Linked DNA regions of Homo sapiens. The protein of the gene in region 2 purifies or fractionates together with the protein of the main gene of each other region. This does not show direct contact. Each region holds a gene or a part of one and is shown on either strand. Other genes may lie near its edges.

Evidence for each region.
Region 1: the proteins of ESCO2 (region 2) and ADD2 purify together in Homo sapiens (affinity purification with mass spectrometry; one large-scale study listed by BioGRID and IntAct). This does not show direct contact.
Region 3: the proteins of ESCO2 (region 2) and MACROH2A2 purify together in Homo sapiens (affinity purification with mass spectrometry, with the first as the bait; one large-scale study listed by BioGRID). This does not show direct contact.

The regions. Positions count from the first base shown.
Region 1 is NC_000002.12:70,758,078-70,761,731, forward strand, and holds part of ADD2 (beta-adducin), read right to left. Parts: intron 1-3,654. UniProt on the Homo sapiens protein: Membrane-cytoskeleton-associated protein that promotes the assembly of the spectrin-actin network. Binds to the erythrocyte membrane receptor SLC2A1/GLUT1 and may therefore provide a link between the spectrin cytoskeleton to the plasma membrane.
Region 2 is NC_000008.11:27,784,490-27,788,143, reverse strand, and holds part of ESCO2 (N-acetyltransferase ESCO2), read right to left. Parts: intron 260-3,654; coding exon 142-259; intron 1-141. UniProt on the Homo sapiens protein: Acetyltransferase required for the establishment of sister chromatid cohesion. Couples the processes of cohesion and DNA replication to ensure that only sister chromatids become paired together.
Region 3 is NC_000010.11:70,069,731-70,073,384, reverse strand, and holds part of MACROH2A2 (core histone macro-H2A.2), read right to left. Parts: intron 1-3,654. UniProt on the Homo sapiens protein: Variant histone H2A which replaces conventional H2A in a subset of nucleosomes where it represses transcription. Nucleosomes wrap and compact DNA into chromatin, limiting DNA accessibility to the cellular machineries which require DNA as a template.

The DNA.
Region 1 (3,654 bases), on a different chromosome or scaffold from region 2:
CACGCGGCAGGAACTGTGAGGGATCGACATCTTTATAACATCGGTTCTTCCCATCTGGGAACATGACATTCTGTTTCTTGAGTAAATATTGGTAATGCATATTTTCAGTGGAAATAGTCCATTTCATCAAGATTTTCACAGATGATGGGATACAATAATGCACAATGTTCTTGAGATTTTACATCTTTTCTCCATGCTGCTCCATATGTCATTTCTAGCTTTGTGAATTTTTTTGCCTTTGTATCTTAATTAGGCTTTCTGGAAGTTTGCCTATTTTATTGGCTTTCTAAAAGAACTAACTGGCTGGATAAAAGGTGGGGAGAGGGCATATAAGGAGGTGGAAAGAGTTGTTTTGGAAGGGTTGGGAGGGTGGGAAAGCATGTTCAGAAAAATGGAGTAGTTCAGCCTACCTAGAGGGTAGAGCGTAAAGGAAAAAGAGGAAAAGCAGTTGAGGCAGGTAAGGAGCTTGGGCTTTATCCGGAGGGTAGAGAAATGATGAGATTAGATTTTTGTTTTAAAAAGATCAACTATGCAACATAGTGAGACCTCGTCTCTACCAGAATTTTAAAAAAAATAAGCCAGGCATGTTGGCATACACTGTACTCCCAGCTACTTGGGAGGTTGAGATGGGAGGATTGCTTGAGCCCAGGAGGTTAAGGCTGCAGTGAGCCATGATTGCACTGCTGCACTCCAGCCTGGGCAACAGAGCGAGACCTTGTCTCAGAAAAACAATAATAATAAACTATGGATGGAGGAAGACTGGGCTGGAAGCAGGGAAGAAGGTGGGGGGACTCTAAAGTAATCCAGAGTTTCAGCCAGGGGCAGTGTGGCCATATGAAACAGGAACCCAAGCAAAGTAGCCCAGGCAGAATGGAAGGCAACATCGACATGGAAACCAAAGTCTAGCCTGGACTCATGGAAACTACTAGAATTGTCATCAATTCAGGGAGCCATGGGGATGGGGTGAAGGATGTCAAATGGTCCTTAGAGCTGCTACTGATAGAAGCCACAGGGATTTACTACTTGGCTTAGAAAGTTTTTTTCAGCCACTTCACAGCTGGAAAAAAGGCACAGAGAAAACCATTCCAGGCATTAAATGGAGCACTGAAATTTGTATTCAGGTACCTAGATCCTAAGCTCCCTGGCCTCCAGATCCTGCCCTGGAAGCTTGCAGGATGAGGCCCTATGTTAGATCAAATACATTACAGGTATTTACTGCTGGGTGGAATAGCGTTTATTTACATACTTTTGTATCTTTATTTTTAGCTGCATCTGGTGAAGTGATCAGAATCAACCTTGTTTGAAGCTGGATATATTAAATCCCCACTTTACTGGGAGCTCCCTCAGCACATGTCTGAGGAACTGAGGGTGCTGTGGTTTGGATATTTGATCCCTCCAAAGCCCATGTTGAAGGAGGGGGTACCTGGTGGGAGGTGTTTGGGTCATGGTGGTGGATCCCTCATGAATGGCTTGGAGCCATTCTTGCAGTAGTGAGTGAGTTCTCACTCTTTTCATTCCCATGACAGCTGGTTGTTAAGAAGAGCCTGGCATCTCCTCCCCTCTCTCTTGCTTCCTCTCTTGCCATGTGATCTCTGCACACGCCAGCTCCCCTTTGCTTTCTGTCAGGAGTGGAAGTGGCCTGAGGCTTCCACAAGCTGCCCAGTCTTCCAGCCAGTAGAATCATGAGAAAAGTAAACCTTTTCTCTATAAATTACCCAGCCTTGGATATTCCTTCATAGCAACACAGGCAGACTAAGATGGGGATCTGCCACTCAAGGTGGCAGTGCTGATAGATTTCCCACGGCCCTTAGATTTATATCCCTCATCCCCACCCCACTGACCATACCACAGCCCATCTAGCCCTGTTTCATTGAGCCTGGGGATACTAGCACTCAGCTGAGAGGACACCACTGCTTCTTCCCAGGAAAGCCCCTTGTTGATACTCATGGGCTGGGTGATATTGGCTGGCACCATCTGTACTCTAACTTTTACAGAGTCCTTAAAGAATCTAGGCCCAGTGTTTGTTCTCTTCTCTAAAACTCAAATCGATGTTTTCCTTACTATATTTGTCTTTGGACACTTTGAAGAAAAGAAAGGCAAATATTTAGGTCCATGGTGCCATCTTGAAACCTACACGTGCGTGTTTATAACCCTGAACCTGCAACTCAGATCTCGGGTCCCAGCCATGACACATGCATACGTCTGCCTCTCTGCTGGCCATCCCCACCTCAAACTCGTCTTGTCTAAAACTGACCACTGTCTTACACAAACCACTTCCTTCTTGGCTGTGCTGGATTCCCCAATTTAGAGCACCAAGCAAAGTAGGGCTCCAAATATTCTTGGAATAAATTTGATATATATTTTTTGAAGCATCAAAGTAGTCACCATGGAGATGTTATAACAATGAATAAGATACAAATGGTACAGTTCTAATTTTTTAAAGTTTCAGAGAAACAAGTCTGATGTACTTTGTTTGAGGATGCAAATTTAGATTATAAAATTATAAAAGCAAGCAAGAAAATGGTTACCATAAAAGGAAGGTGAGTTGTTACCTCCAGGGGGAAGCAGGGTGTGGTTCAAGGGTGCACTGGGCTCTGGGAGCTGGCTGTGTCCTGCTTCTTGACCTGCATGGTGGTCACACGGGCATTCACTTTATAATATTTCACTAAACTGCACATTTGTTTCATGTCCTTTCCTATATCTGTGTTATGTTTTATATATTTTAAGGTTTTTTTAAATAAAGTAGTCATTACAAGGGAAAGAAACAAAACTTTTGTGGACTTTCATAGTTATTTTGATAAAGTTGGCCACAACTTATCTTCCATCATACAAAATGCCAGAAGACAAAAGAATAATATTTGGAGTTTTTAGGTAAAAAGATTAAGATGAAGAAGTGTATGCCCCAAAAGGATGATGTTACTGTGAAACAGCAACATAAAGAAGTTCTTAGGCAAGCAAGAACTACCGGAATATACTATCTTTCCTGAAAAAGATTCCAACTAATCAAGGAATAAGTAAAAATGAAGATTGAGCATAGGAAATGGACTGAGTATTGTAACCTATGTAACTCTCAGTCTAGATAGCAGCTGTTAGTATGGTTAGGAAACATAAATGTCAAAAATAATTCTGGAAAGCAAAAGCATGCATTACTTTTTTTTTTTTTTAAAGACAATAATCTGGATCTAAAAGCCAAAATGTTTTTAAGGCAAAAAGTTAGTGGGGGTAGATGGGCAACAAAAAAGAAATTAAAGCTGGGCACAGTGGCTTACACCTGTAATCCCAGCACTTTGGGAGGCCGAGGTGGGTGGATCACCTGAGATCAGGAGTTTGAGACCTGCCTGGCCAACATGGTGAAACCTGGTCTCTACTAAAAATACAAAATTAGCCGGGCGTGGTGGCAGGTGCCTGTAATCCCAGCTACTCAGGAGGCTGAGGCACAAGAATCACTTGAACCCAGGAGACAGAGGTTGCAGTGAGATGAGATTGTACCACTGCACTCCAGCCTGGGTGACAGAAAAAAAAAAAAAAAAAAGGAAGGAAGGAAGGAATTAAAGTATACTAAATCTCTCATTATTTATGAAAGAACAAATAGACACAACTTTTTTTTTTTTTGAGACAGAGTATCGTTCTGTTGCTCAGGCTGGAGTGCAGTGG
Region 2 (3,654 bases):
CCACCTACAACTCCCATTCTGTCACATAAAACATTGCTTAATGACATTGAAAATACCAAGTTCTGAACTGTCTAATACAGGGGTTGGCAAGCTTTTCTGCAAAGGGCTAGATAGGAGAAGCTTTGTTTGGAATTTACTCACGATGATGAGCTGGTCTTTTGTTTTTTTACTTGTATCTCTGGTATTAGTATTTTTCTGGATATTGGTCTGTTTCATGAAGTTGACAGATCCCACAGAAAACTGTTCTTCACCTAAAGATCTTGACACAGAAAGTTGATATATATAAATTTACAATTTTGGAGGAATTACAAGGGAAAGAAAGCAGCCATTTATCAGAGTACCTTGCAATTTTTAGTGCTTTCTATCTGACATTAACTTGATGAAGTAATAAGGACAGGAACAAAGAGAAACCTGAGGCCTACTCAGAGAGGGTCAGTAATTTACTCAAGGTAAAGTAACTAGTAAATGGCAGTGTTAACACTCAAATCCTGGTCCTCTGACTCCAAGTCCTAGGGACTTTCTTCCACAATATCAGATGCACATAGATGCACACTTTGGAAATTGACTTTGCCCTTTAAAAAAAGATTTTTTTGCTTTATCAAATCTTAGGACAATATTTACCCCATACAGCTATGAAGAAATTCCTGGGGTACTGGAGAAAATAAGTATAATACTGAACTTCACAGATCCACAGGAAATCAGAGTCACCATCATATTATGACCCAGCACCTGGGCAATGAAGCTTCTAAATTTGCTTTTCCTCATACCAAAAGCAGCATCTCACTACTGTGAAATTCTTAAGGAAAAAAAAAAAACAAAAACATATTTAGGCTGGATAGCTGTAGTTGAGACAACCTTTACCTATTATGAAAGAATGTTGAGATTCACTTATAGAGGTTGCAAACTGGAGCCCCTCAGGCCAAATCTAGCTAGCAGATATGTTTTGGTTGGCCCATATGGTATTTAAAAACTTTGGATTAGCTACCAATATTTTAAAATCTAGAGATTTCACTTAAAAATGTGTATTTCCAATATTAAGAGACATTGTAAGATCACTAAACCTCTACTCCATCAAAGAATCTATGAGTTCGAACTTGGAATAGCACATGCCCTTTTAAGTGGGCAATTCTTCAGCTGGCCCTAGTCTCCACCCAGCCTGCTGGTTCTGTAGGTACTGAGTTTGTAACCCTTGCCTTGTAATGAAAGGACCTTGGTTTTCCAGGGACCAAAGGAGTAGAAATCCCTAAAGAGTAGAAGTAAATAAGAAAGAAAAAAAAAAAAAACCCTAGTACCAAAAGTAAGAAGTTCAAACAACAGGAAAAAAAAAAACCTGACAAAGTAGAAAAAAAAAAAAAAAAAGGTGGAGCATTAGCTCCACTGCATTAAGCTAAGTCAAGCTATCTTCTTACCATTTGTCTGAAAAGTAGTTTTCAAACTGACTTGACAAATCTATGCTAAGAAATACATTTCACATGACTAGTACAGACATAAAACCAAAGTTTCACTAAATATACTTGCTGTGTGAGAGATACACTATTCCACTAAAAATAAATGCTATTGTTGGAGGCCAAAAGAATGAGGGTTGTGACTAACTCAGTATACCACTGGAGGCTATATGAGCAAACAGCAAACTGTTATCATGAATGCAGGTTGTTGGCAAACTGACAAACTGCATCTGCCACCCAGAAGGAATGCTGAGGGCAGTCATGCCCAGGCACAGTGTTTCTTGCGATTATCTATAGGCACATTTGAAGCCTGTTAGCAATCACGTGAACCTGTGATAAATCAAGCAGCTGACCTTTACCTCCTCCTCCCTGCTCTTTCTACCCAATAAATATAAAAGGCTGTAAAAGCTCAGGGCCCTTGCTCACTAGCAGGAGCTCCCGACCCCTTCTTTAAAAAGATCCTTTTGTCTTTGTCTTCATTTCTGCGTTCGTCCACCTTCGTTCAGTCCCATAGTAACTGTCACAAGATATGACACCCTAAACTGGTCTGATGAACTACTAATGGGCTACTTCCTACAGTATGAAAAAACACTTGTTCAAGTCACTGACCCTTTTCACCTTATGCAGCCTTTGCTAGGCTCTCCCTGACTCTGCATGCGTGACAGCCATCTCTTTGCTTCCATTTTAGCAACTCTAACACTATATTTGTTTAAATGTCTACCCTCCTCTAACCATAACCTCCTTGATAGCAAGACCACATTAATTATCTTCACATCTCTAGAACTCAGTATAGTTCAATAGCATGTGATACTCTCTAAATGTTCATTGAATTTTAAAAACCAAAAAACAAATGTGCGACTAAGCACTTTGAGAATCTGTAATCATCTGAAGTAATAGATTAAATCTCAAATTGCTGATAACTGACGTTTTGGAGTCTACAAAAAGAGCAATATCATATTATTTAACAAATAGTATCCCACTGTCTTTTTTTTTTTTTTTGAGATGGAATCTTGCTCTGTTGCCCAGGCTGGAGTGCAGTGGCACCATCTTGGCTCACTGCAACCTCTGCCTCTTGGGTTCAAGCTAGTCTCCTGTCTCAGCTTCCTGAGTAGCTGGGATTACAGGCATGCCCCATCATGCCCAACTAATTTCTGTATTTTTTGGAAAGACGGTTTCCCCATGTTGGCCAGGCTAGTCTCAAACTCCAGACCTCAGGTGATCCACCCACCTCGGCCTCCCAAAGTGCTGGGATTACAGGCATGAGCCACTGCGCCTGGCCTGTCTCTTTATGCTAGACTAAATTAGTATACACTTTTATCAGTTAATTGTGGTAGGCTTCTGCTATGGTTTGAACACGTCCCCCAAAGTTCATGTGTGAAAACTTAATCTCTAGTGCAACAGTTTTGGGAGGTGGGGCCTAATAAGAGGTGTTTAGCTCATGATGGCTCCACCTTCATGAATGGATTAATGTTGATTATTGAAGGATGTGAGGCTGCAAGCCAAGCTCTCTTGTTCTCTCATGCACACTCTCTTGTTCTGCCTTCCGCCATGGGATCATGCAGCAAGAAGGCACCCACCAGATGTGGCTGCTTGATCTCGAACTTCTCAGCCTCTATAACTGTGAGCCAAATAAATTTCTGTCCATTATAAATTACCTAGTCCATGGTATTTTGTGATAGCAACACAAAATGAACTAAGACAGCTCCCATCTTCAATAAAAGGTCATGAAAGATGACAACACAGGTGAAAAATGGGAAAGGTGAGAAAAACTAGAAACAAACCTTTGAAGAGGGAAAGCTGTGCACCCATCCTAATCACTGAGGCAATTTAAGGTGAGGTGCTCTGAGAGTAAGGAAAATGTAGCCGGGAAGTTCCTTGCTTAATATCTGGAGTTATTTATAATCAAATGGGGAGAGAAGAATCAAAGCTGCTTAGGAAGAGGATGTTTAGACCATAAGAAACTACTTTTTCAGAGCTCTGCCGCCTATCATGCTCTCTACCCATCCATGCCTCCTCCATTGCAGTCTTTAGCTTGGGTACTGGTAGCTTCAGCTATACTTTATGATAACATTAAGCTGCTGCAAGTTACTTACTCCTCCAGCCAGCTTTCTCATCTACAACATGGGGTAATAATGGTACCTACATCATGAAGTTGTAAATGCTTATTAAATTGTAGCTACTATACTATCACCCAGGGAAGGCAATATAA
Region 3 (3,654 bases), on a different chromosome or scaffold from region 2:
AAACAAGATCTCCCACCTTTGCCGTGCTGCTGCTGTCTGTGGCTGCTCACTCTCATAAATCCACTTGTAGGGGTTTTCTCTTTGAGGAAGCAAGCAACTATGTGTTAGGTAAATGTATGGAGGGCCTGCTGTTAGTCAGCCCTGTCGCAGGAAAGAGGGGAAACAGACAGCATTGCTAAGTGGTCCCTGTCCTCACATAGCACGTGTTTGCTAGCTGGGTTGTGGTGCTCTAAATGGAGGTGGCTCTTGCTATAGTGGAAGGAGCCCAGGACTGCGGAACAGAAAGTCCTGGGCATAGCGCCGCTTCTACATAACTACAGTCATGCACCCCACAATGACCGCATATGACGGTGGTCCTGTATGATCATAATGGAGCTGAAAAATTCCTATGCCCTAGTGACATCTTTTTGTTGTTGTTGTTGTTGTTTGGGAAGGAGTCTTGCTCTGTCCCCTAGGCTGGAGTGCAGTGGTGCAATCTCGGCTCATTGCAACTTCTGCCTCTGGGGTTCAAACGATTCTCCTGCCTCAGCCTCCCAAGTAGCTGGGACTATCGGTGTGCACCACCATGCCTGGCTAATTTTTGTATTTTTAGTAGAGACGAGGTTTCACCATGTTGGCCAGGGTGGTCTCAAACTCCTGACCTCAAGTGATCCATCTTCCTCAGCCTCCCAAAGTGGTGGGATTACAGGTGTGAGCCACCACACCTGGCCAACCTAGTGACATCCTAACGGTGTAGCACAATGCCTTACTCATGTGTTTGTGGTGATGCTGATGTAAACAAACCTACTGTGCTGCCAGTCATATAAAAGTCTAGCACATATAATTATGTATAGTATATAATACTTGATAACAAATGACGATGTTACTGGTACTCCTTCTACTTATTAAAAACAAAGTAAACTGTAAACCAGCCTTAAATGGATCCTTCAGGAGGTATTCCAGAAGGAGGCATTATTATTACAGGAGATGACAGCTCCGTGCGTGTTATTGTCCCTAAAGACTTTCCAGTGGACAAGATGTGAAGGTGGAAGACAGTGTTATTGATGACCCTGACTCTGTGTAGGCCTAGGCTAATGTGTATGTGTCTTATTTTTTTTAACAGAAGTTTAAAAAGTTAAAAAAAATTTTAATAGAAAAATGCTTATAAACTTAAAGTATAATAATAATAAAATAAAAAAAGAAAAATGCTTATAGAGTAAGGCTATAAAGAAGGAAAATATGTGTAGTAGCTGTGCAATGTATTTGTGTTTTAAGCTAAGTGTTATTACAAAAGAGTCAAAAAGTTTAAAAAGGTTAAAAAGTTTATAAAGTAAAAAAAATTACAGTAAGCTAAGGTTAATTTATTATTGGATAATTTATTGGAAAATTTATTATTGGGTAAGGTTAATTTATTATTAAGGAAAATATTCTCTTTTAAATGTAGTGTAGCTAACATGTACGGTATAAAGTCTACAGTAGTGTACAATAATGTCCCGGGCCTTCACATTCACTCACCACTCACTCACTCACCCAGAGTACTTCTAGTCCTGCAAGCTCTATTCACGGCAAGTGCCCTATACATGTGTACTGCTGTTTACATTTTATACTGTATTTTACTGTCCTTTTCTAAGTTTAGAGACACAAAAACTTACCATCACCATTGCCTGCAGTATTCAGTATGGTAAGATGTTGAGCAGGTTTGTAGCCCAGAAGCAACAGATCATAGGATTATAGCCTAGGTGTACAGGAGGCTGTACCATCTAGGTTTGTGAAGTCCACTCTATGCTGTTTGCACAATGACAAAATCACCTAACGATGCATTTCTCAGAACGTACCCCTTTCGTTAAGTGATGCATGACTGTAGTTATGTGAGCTTCATATGTTATTTATTTGGACCTCAGTGGCCTTCTCTGTAAAACAGGGCAGGTGGCTAACATCCTTACAGTTGTTCTGCTCTTAAACATCCTGATTTTTCTGAAAGGCACTTTTCAATGATTTTGGTAGAGAAGCTTAGGCTCTTTAAGCAGTCGGTTCTAAAGACTTAAGAGCCTACACAGGCTCATAAAGGTGCATTAGTGACTCTCCTAAGCCAATTATGTGCTTTTCTCAGTTAATGGTAAGTGGGATTGGAGGATGATTACTAAGTCTGGTTGTCAAGAAACCACCTGAAAAGCCCATCACAGGGTGGACGTGCTCTGTGAATATGGTGTGTGCTGGCTGGTCTTAATCTCTCCCTACCATGCTTCCACCAGAGAATGCTGCATGAAGTACAAACACCACAAGGGCAGGGACACCCCCTGTGCACACGCGCACACACACACACACACTCATGCACATGCACACGCGCGCCCACACACGCATGCACGTGCACACGCATACATGCACGCGCTCACACACACACACACATGCACATGCACACAGACACACACACACACACACACACTTTCCTCAAAACAGCCAGAGAATGACTAGGTGTGCAGGATAAAGCCATTTAGGGACTTTCCTACTATTAGCTGCCAAGAGAAGTCACAAACTGCCCTAAAAATTGGAACTTAGGACTAGGAGTATAAGAAAAGCAAGTGACTTTAGGGGACGGATGCCTAAAACACTCAGGAAGAGGCCAAGCGTGGTGGCTTACGCCTGTAATCCCTACATTTTGGGAGGCTAAGGTGGGTGGATCACCTGAGGTCAGGAGTTTGAGCCTGGGCAACATGATGAAACCCCGACTCTACTAAAAATACAGAATATTAGCCGGGCGTGGTGGCGGGTGCCTGTAATTCCAGCTACTCTGGAGGCTGAGGCAAAAGAATCACTTGAACCCAGGAGGAGGAGGTTGCAGTGAACCGAGATTGTACCATTGCACTCCTGCTGGGCAACGACAGCGAAACTCCGTCTCAAAAACAAACAAACAAACAAAACTCAACACTCATGAAGATAAAATAGCCAAGTAAGGAAAATCAAAGTAGGAACAAGTAGAGAAACATACCACCTGCACATTGTAAAAAAGTACCTAAATGTAAGAATCATCCTGAACATGGTACTTTATAATAAGTTTTTCCCTCTGTGGCTTCCAGACTTCCCTCTAAGTGAGGGCCTTAGAGGAAATCCCCCTGGGTGGGGGATGCAGCTCCATCTGAAGTCTAAGTGTGAGATGGACTGACTTATGCATGTATTTTAAGCAGGACTGGAGAGTCCTCTATGCCTGCCAAACCCATCTTTTCAGGTCTTGTGCGGAATTTAAGCAGCCAGGCACCTATCTCCCAGGCCCTCCTGGGGACTCAGGGCTGTGAGGTCCCTGGACACGGACAGTAAGAATTAGAGCACATCCAGGAATCCCTAGGGGAAGCAAGGAGGGGCTTATGGAGCTGACATGTTACATCTACCAGAGCCCACCGACGGGAGGAAGTGCTGAGCCTCTGGGGCCACTCCAGAGAAGACCCTGCTTTCTAAAGACCACCTCTCCCCAAAGCCTGTGCTGGATTATGCCTGGAGTTATGATAAATTATAACCCTGAACTTCCTTCTTTCCCGGGCCACCCTTTCCTCCAACTCTATTCCGTCTTGGGAAGTCAGGAGTCAAAAACTTGAATGGGTTTTTATCCACATCCTGGTAATTGGAGTCTCGGTGTAGGCCTACTGTCTAAAAAGAACCATTGCAAGGTGAAAATTTGTTTTC